Homo sapiens: one gene and its partner. The protein of the gene in region 1 interacts with the protein of each later gene in a pairwise test. Each region holds a gene or a part of one and is shown on either strand. Other genes may lie near its edges. The genes, in order: CACNG1 and VAPA.

The links.
Region 2: the proteins of CACNG1 (region 1) and VAPA interact in binary tests that used the Homo sapiens proteins (3 or more experiments, as listed by UniProt).

The regions. Positions count from the first base shown.
Region 1 is NC_000017.11:67,050,997-67,054,816, reverse strand, and holds part of CACNG1 (voltage-dependent calcium channel gamma-1 subunit), read right to left. Parts: intron 822-3,820; coding exon 747-821; intron 1-746. UniProt on the Homo sapiens protein: Regulatory subunit of the voltage-gated calcium channel that gives rise to L-type calcium currents in skeletal muscle. Regulates channel inactivation kinetics.
Region 2 is NC_000018.10:9,955,466-9,959,285, reverse strand, and holds part of VAPA (vesicle-associated membrane protein-associated protein A), read right to left. Parts: 3' UTR 1-3,820. UniProt on the Homo sapiens protein: Endoplasmic reticulum (ER)-anchored protein that mediates the formation of contact sites between the ER and endosomes via interaction with FFAT motif-containing proteins such as STARD3 or WDR44.

The DNA of each region.
Region 1 (3,820 bases):
TCATTGTACGTGTGTGTCAGTGTGTGTCTGTGTGTGTCACTGTGTGTCATTTTGTGTGTCATCATGCATGTGTATCAGTGTGTGTCTGTGTCACTGTGTGTCATTTTGTGTGTCATCATGCGTGTGTGTCAGTGTCTCTGTGCGTCTGTGTCTTGTGTGTGTCGTGTGTGTGTATCTGTGTTGTGTGTGTCTGTGTGTGTCAGTGTGTGTCTGTGTGTCTGCCCACTCACCCTGTGTGCAGCTGTCTGGGCGCAGGCAGGCACGGGTCTGTACTCCCGACAATGGGTGTGCGTCTGAGCTCTGCGGATCCTGAAAAGCTCCCAGAGCCCACCGCACCCTCCTGGTACTCAGGGAGGGATTTCTAGGCCAGGGAGGGACTCAGACTGTCCCTGCAGACTCTAACTATCACATGCCACCAAGAGCCACCACGGGGCTTCTGAGCATTTGTTCCACATCCACACCTCCCGTCACAACAGCTGCCCTTGTGTAGGGGCCTACCAGGAGGTGCTGCTTCTGCAAACGCTCCCTGGCCCCGAGGTGTGGAAGCTCCGGGCCCTGGAGATGGAAGGCGGCTGCCTGGGGCCTCCGGAGCGGGGAGCTGACAAGGCTGTTGTTCAAATGCACCACAGGCTTCTTCTCATCAGGCGTGAGGAAGTCAGTGCTTTTGCCAATGACTTTCTGGCCCAGTGGTGCACAACACAGAAGTCCCCTCTTGTCACCCCAGACCCCTTTCCACCCAGGCTCACCCTTCTGAGTGGTGAATTCGAAGATCTCCGAGCTCTCGCCGGGGTTAAAATGCCTGAAGTAGGAACAGTTCTTCTCTGCAAAGGAGGAGACAGACTGTGAGTTGAGGGGAGCAACCCGTAGCAAGGACAGAGGCCTGGCAGAGAGCGTGGTGTCATTCTGCTCGGCATGCAGGGGGCTCTGGCAGCCTCTCTTCTCCCCAGATCCTTAATCTGGGCTGAAACATCTGTCTTTGACCCTTAGAACAACATCTCAGTGGGATAATGAGGTTGCCTGCAGGGCTGGGAGGTCTTCAGGGAGCTGAGGCTGGATGAGTCTGCAGGGCAGACGGCCTGTGGGTTCTGCACCCCATTAGGCAGACAGGGTAACCGAGGCCCAGGCTCAAGCCATTTTTCAGGGTGTGCAGGGTGCACAATCAACAAAGAACCAAACAGCAGTCTCTGTTGGGGCCGATTCTGCCCCCCCAGGGGACACTTGGCGATGCCTGGGGTTATGGTGGTGGTGAGAGGGGTACACCTGGCACCCAGCCGGTAGAGGCCACAGACGTTGCTGAACATCCCAAGACACACAGGACAGGTCCTCCCAACATGGAATGATCCAGGCCAAAATATCAAGAGTGTCAAGGTTGAGAAACCCTGGATCAACCCCAAACCTGGGACTGTGTTTCTCATCAGAATCCAGGCACACCCTGGTTCATTGGTGGGACCTGGGAAACAGTGTTTTTCAAAAGCTTTCTGGGAGAGCCTGATGTGCAGCCAGGATGGGAACCCTGCTCCAGGCCCCTTAAAATGCCCTGCAAAGGGCTTTTTCCGAGTGGCCATTGGGATGGCCTGGATGCAGATGGAACCCCTACGAGGGCTGAATGTGACCATCATGTGGTTTCACTGGGTCCCTGGTCTTTGCGAGACAGCCCAGATGAGACCTGCCCCCACAAAGCCGCTTGGCCCACCTGATAATTGTCATAAAAGCTATGGAAAGTCTGTGGGCAGTAGGAACGCAAATCTGAATTTGATGAGGGAGAGGGGAGGGGCTCAGCACAAGGAAATTCATGCTGATTTAAAATATAATTTCATTTCCATTTTTCTCTTTCAGTCTCTCTCTCATAGCTAGGTATACTATAAAATCAAAGCACAGGCCGGGCGTGGTGGCTCACACCTGTAATCCCAGCACTTTAGAAGGCTGAGGCAGGAGAATTGCTTCAACCCAGGAGGCAGAGGTTGCAGTGAGCTGAGGTCGTGTCACTGCACTCCAGCCTGGGTGACAGAGTGGGACTCTGTCTCAAAAAAAAAAAAAGCACAGTCTTATTTCTTGCTAAATACGGTTTATCTTCTTTGCTCTTGATTTAGGAAGTGGATGAATGGGTTATTTTATATTATGTTTCCTTCCAAAACTAAATTAGTTTGCTTTTTATTTGTGGAGGCCCTTCATTGATTTCTTTTCCTGTGGATCAGTGACCCTTAAATAGAAAAACATCTCTTTCTCTAGTTGAGATGGTGTCTAGTTTGCCAATTCATTTCTTCACTTCCAGGCTTCATTTAGATGCTCATAAGGCGGTTGATGCCTAGTTCTTTCTGGAAATGTACCTGCAGTGATACCAAGGCTTTTCTTTGGGATGAAGACTTTCTTTAACCGGACCTAAATCATTCTTCTTGCACCTTAAGCCTGTGGTCTCATACCATGCCCCTCCTTCCCCCCAGAGCCAGGGCTGCTGCCTCTCCTGAGGTTGAGGAAGCAAATGACCCCTGGAGATGGGATCTGGTTTAGCAGCAGTACCCATTCCTGGCATAAACAGCCTTCTCTGTGTGCTTCTATATTTAAATCACTTTCCTTTTGAACCGCGTTACCTGGGGTGTCTGACTGCTGGTGGTGATGTCAGAATTGGTGCTCTGCTATTCTCTCTGGGCATCCGGTGCTATTTTAAAGCATAATGCAGATCTCTTCTATTTGTTAGATTATTGGCTGTAGATCTCTCGAATCACTGCTTCAAAATGGCCCATGCTATGTCATAAGTCTCCATGTGTCTCCCTCTGGACAAAGAAACATTTCTGTTTCTGTTTCATTCTTGAAGGGCCAATTTCAGTTGTCAGAATTGACTGAATTCAAGTGTATTTCATGGTCAGCTGCCTCCCTGACTGCTCAAAAGCCATAAGTTAAAATCCTTCCCAGCGGAGGGCCCTGAGATGAGGGCCATGGAGTGCCTTGCTGGGGGCACAGCTGTTTGCACCTGGTGGGTTGCTGAGGTGACTCTCACACAGGTAGCATTTGGCTCACCAAATCCCCACCAGATAAACGCCAGGCTCCGCCTGGCTGCTGGCTGCTTGGATAGAAATGATCTTAACTCAGACACAGGGGTAGGCTACGTGTCTGCAGGAGCCAGGTTGTGAGCTTCTGGGGGGATGCTTTTCTTTTGGTGGTCCAGGTACAGTGTTCCTCCTCCCTCTTCTCCATTAAGTGTCCTCAAATGGAGGGAGGGGGCCTCCAGTGGGTAGGATTCCTTCTCAGGGTAACAGGAAGCCTCAGCTTCACTCTTACATGGCTGAACTGGGGGCCTGAGGACTGATGGGCTGACCTCTCCCCTTTCTTGGGCTTAGCATGTGAAAAAGACCGGTGTCTCCTGCCCTGAACCTGAGAGAAACATCCACTCCTGGGCTATGTGGCTGCCCATTGGAGACCATAAACCCTTTCATGGTCTCTAATGGCCCCTGTAGGGGTGGGGGCACGTCAGACCCAGGCCTCATTTAGGACAAATCAGGCCAGGCATCTGCCCATGTTACTCAAGAGGGTGCAGGGTCCTGTTCAGATGGACAGACCCTACTATGAGCCCCTTCCCTCCCTGCCCTGTTCCTGGGTCTAGGTGGATATTATTTGGGAAACTGAGCATCCAGGGCAACGTAAAGAGGAAGGACATCCGAGGTGGACCCATCTTAGTCATGGGTCAAGAGGAGAGGGACCGTGACGGTCCTGTGCAGACTCTCAGTCTTCCTGCCTCTGCCTCTGGGATGCCCCTCTCTGCCCCGCTGCCCTGGCTTCCATCACACTTACACAAAGCTCAGGGATTGCAGCTTTGCTTCCGACT
Region 2 (3,820 bases), on another chromosome or scaffold:
GTACTCCATGTAAAGTGGAATCAAAGGCATCACAAAATTGCCATACTTACTGTTTGTGAGGAGTCAATATTTGACTTGGACCAGGACACAAACTATGTCCTTCATATGGTAGATCACTAGGATCAGACCATCTAGATCCCACTTTCTCTGCTACTTCAGCTGTGTAGACTTGAGCTAATTGAACCTGTCTAAACCCGTCTCCCCTATTCCATAGGATGGAGATAAGTATTTCACAAGTTATCAATGATGATGAAATGAGCTGACGTAAAACTAAGTAATAAGCATGTTGAAAACGACATTATACTTGAAAACCACCTTTTGCTTTGAGAAATACATGATGGACAAAATAAATTTCTCAGGTAGGTAGGTACACTGGGTGTCAGCAAAATGGCAATTAATACTGAAGCCCACATTTCTCAAATCGCCTTTTTGCGATGACAGCTCATTTATTCACAAGTCAAAAATCTTTAGTGGTATTCCAGCAATCCTAACTTGACAAGCAAAGCTTTTATGCAATTTTTTTTAAGCAATACCTAACAGTGACTCCTGCAGTTTAAAGAAAAATAAGTATTTTAAGTTCCCCTGTATTGCTGAAGTCAAGTCTTAATTAAATCTACTTCATATCTGCCTTTGGCATTTAAAAACCTACATAAAGCAACTGTCTGGCCGATGATTGGAGCTTGAAAAAAACTACCATGCCAGATCTCCACCCCAGACCAATTAGGTCAGTATCTCTGGGGGTGCTATTCAAGCAACAATTATCTTTTATGTTCCTAAGCTCATCATGAGTTAAGGTACTGCTATAGTTGAATATCACTACTACAAAAGTTATCTGAATAACTTCCTATATACTCTCTTTCAAGATGGGTGTTATACATAGCAACAACTGGAAAACAAGAAACTGAGTTTTAAAACAAGAAATGTGGCAACAGGAGGATATGCATAACTAGAAGGGAATTGTCAAGAGGCCAGGCCAATCAAATGTTACATTATAAAATGTCCATAACCTTAAGAAAGTTAACTATAAAAACAAAGCAAAATGCTTTTAGTCACATTTATACTTGGTTTTCAATAAACCACAGAAATTAAGCTGGAAAAAAATAGGATACAACTTATAATTAGTGATTATGCTTAAAGAACATTAATATTACAGGGAAATGAATGAAATGTTCCTAGCAATTGATGCTGCTGAAAGGCAGAATTTGGAATTTTTTATATTTTCCAAAAATTGCCTGAAGTGCACACACTGTGTCAGAAGGGCAAGACAAACTTTCTTTTTCCTTAGTGATATATGTTTATACTTCTTTGCACCAACCCACGAGCGGCTGGGCATTCATTCCCAAGATGCCACTGCTTACGCGAAGAAGCGTGGTGGTAGTCTACCAAAAGTGGGGCTATGAAACGTGGCATGAAAATCAGCTGTTCTCACTTCCTACTAAAAAATAGTTAACTCCATCTCACTAAGCAAGAGACTATCTGCCATCAGAATTCAAGTCCCAGTGATTAGCTATTAATGCTTAACAGGATATAAATGCACAAACCACACAATCTGTTGAAATTTTTTTTGTATTGTGAAAAGGAAAAGGACACTTCACATTTTTAAAGTTTATTCATGAATGGTTTAATTTCCCTTTAAAGCTAGAAAATAAAGATCATTTACCTTCTGATCTTCGTTTTTCCAAATGGTAATAAGCATTGATCCTTCCCTCGAATAAAGGTGAAATTTTTAAAATCTCAGTGAATAGGAATGTGCAAAGCTCTAAGAAAACTATTACTTGAATGTCTCTAAAGTGGTAGAAGATCACAAGTTGGGAATACCCTCAAAAACTATATTTTTACCCTACTGTTAAAACTTGTTTTCAAAGTGGTGTAATCTGAAAGATTACAGTTCAAAAGTAATTCCCATACCAAATAATATCAACTTTAGGTGAACATCTAAGTATTTAAGAGTATTATTTTTCTTGGCTGGGTGCGGCAGCTCACACCTGTAATCCCAGCACTTTGGGAGGCCGAGGCAGGCGGATTCAGGAGTTTGAGCCCAGCCTGACCAACATGGTGAAACCTTGTCTCTACTAAAAATACAAAAATTAGCCGGGCTTGTTGGCTCACACCTGTAATCCCAGCTACTCAGGCGGCTGAGCCATGAGAATCACTTGAACCCAGGAGGCGGAAGCTGCAGTGAGGTGAGATCACACCACTGCCCTCCAGCCTGGGCAACAAAGCAAGACTCTGTCTCAAAAAAAAAAAGAAAGAATTACTTTTCTTTGATCGGAATTTCTGAATTTCATACATTTTTCTTCCAAGTGTCATTTTTTTTTAAGGGAACATACCACACACTCAGAACATAATGACTTAGCTTCTTGTAAATATAAGAATGGGGGAAGTTAAGGTACATTAGTTATAGAACGAAGGAAGCTAGTGCATTCAGTGTCACATATGAACTCAAGGCCTTAGTTACTTGATTGTAATTTCAGTATTAGCAACAGTGTATTTCCCTCATGCTTACATATACAAGTAAGCAGGCAGACAAAGCAAAAACTTCTAAACATATAAGGAATGAAGACAAACAATTTAATCTCTATATTATCATATTATCAGTCAATTAATACAGTTGGACTTTCAAACTATAACTGTTGGTAGTAAAATAATCTGATCACATTTCATACAGCAATTAAAAATAACAGAAACAGAGTCTCACCTATACAATCAGAGCATCTCCTGATATGAACAACAGTTAAGCCCACATACATTTTAAAGATGCTACCCAGACTACAATCTATCTCAAAAGCAACCATGGCATAATGCATTTTATAAAATGCCTACCTAAAAATACATTGTATTTTGTAATGTTTATTACCAATGTGGGAGGCATTTCTAGCCTAAACACTATAACCAAACTATTCAACAGTAAGCCGGTAGTAGTCTTACAATAAGAAATTTCACATATACTTGTTATTATAAATAGCATTTTATGTTCATTATTTCAGCCATCTCTCAAACTAAGACAATTTTCAACAGTTACCAGAAGACACTGAGCTAGAGTCAACAGACCAGATATCTAGTTCCAGCTCTGCCTCTACCTACCTGTGAGACACGGGGAAAGTTCTCTTAACCTTCGTAAGGCCTCAGATTTCTCAACCATAGAACAAAGGGGCTGAACAAAATGAATTCTAAAGAGCATTCCCATAAAACGGGATTTGGCTAAATTTTCAAGAACTTAATTTCTTTAAAAAAAGATAGCTATGAGATACCAAACTTGGTATTTACCACCAATAATATTGATTATATAAGAGCTTTAAGCCAAGGAATTACTGATTCTGCATTTATGGGGTGAAAATATAAGACTATTTTTAGCATGCTTTTCCAGTTACCAGAAAAGGGGAGAGGGGGATTTTTACAAAGACAGTAAAGCATACAGCAATGGCAGTAAAGCATGCAGCATAGCATGCTAGTAATGGATAGGCATTACTTGTGTTTCCTTTTAGGAACTTTTGCACACAAGCAAGAGGTTTTATAAAAGATACCACAGCGCCCAATAACACAATATATGTGTGATCTGACAAATTCAAAACACAGTTGAAATGAAAAGGCAACCAAAATACTTCAGAGTACTTCATTCTTCTATAAAATGTGTACACAGACCTGGGCCTAAAATACTTCACTGCACCACATCCAGTTCTAAAATCCAATTTCCTTTTCAGGTAGAGCGCATCTTTTAAAAAAAGAGCCAACACACCTATGTTTAAGAATAAAAATTCACTTGTACTAGATTGTATGTAGCTAAACACTGGATCTATTTTCTGATTCCAAAATTTTCTAT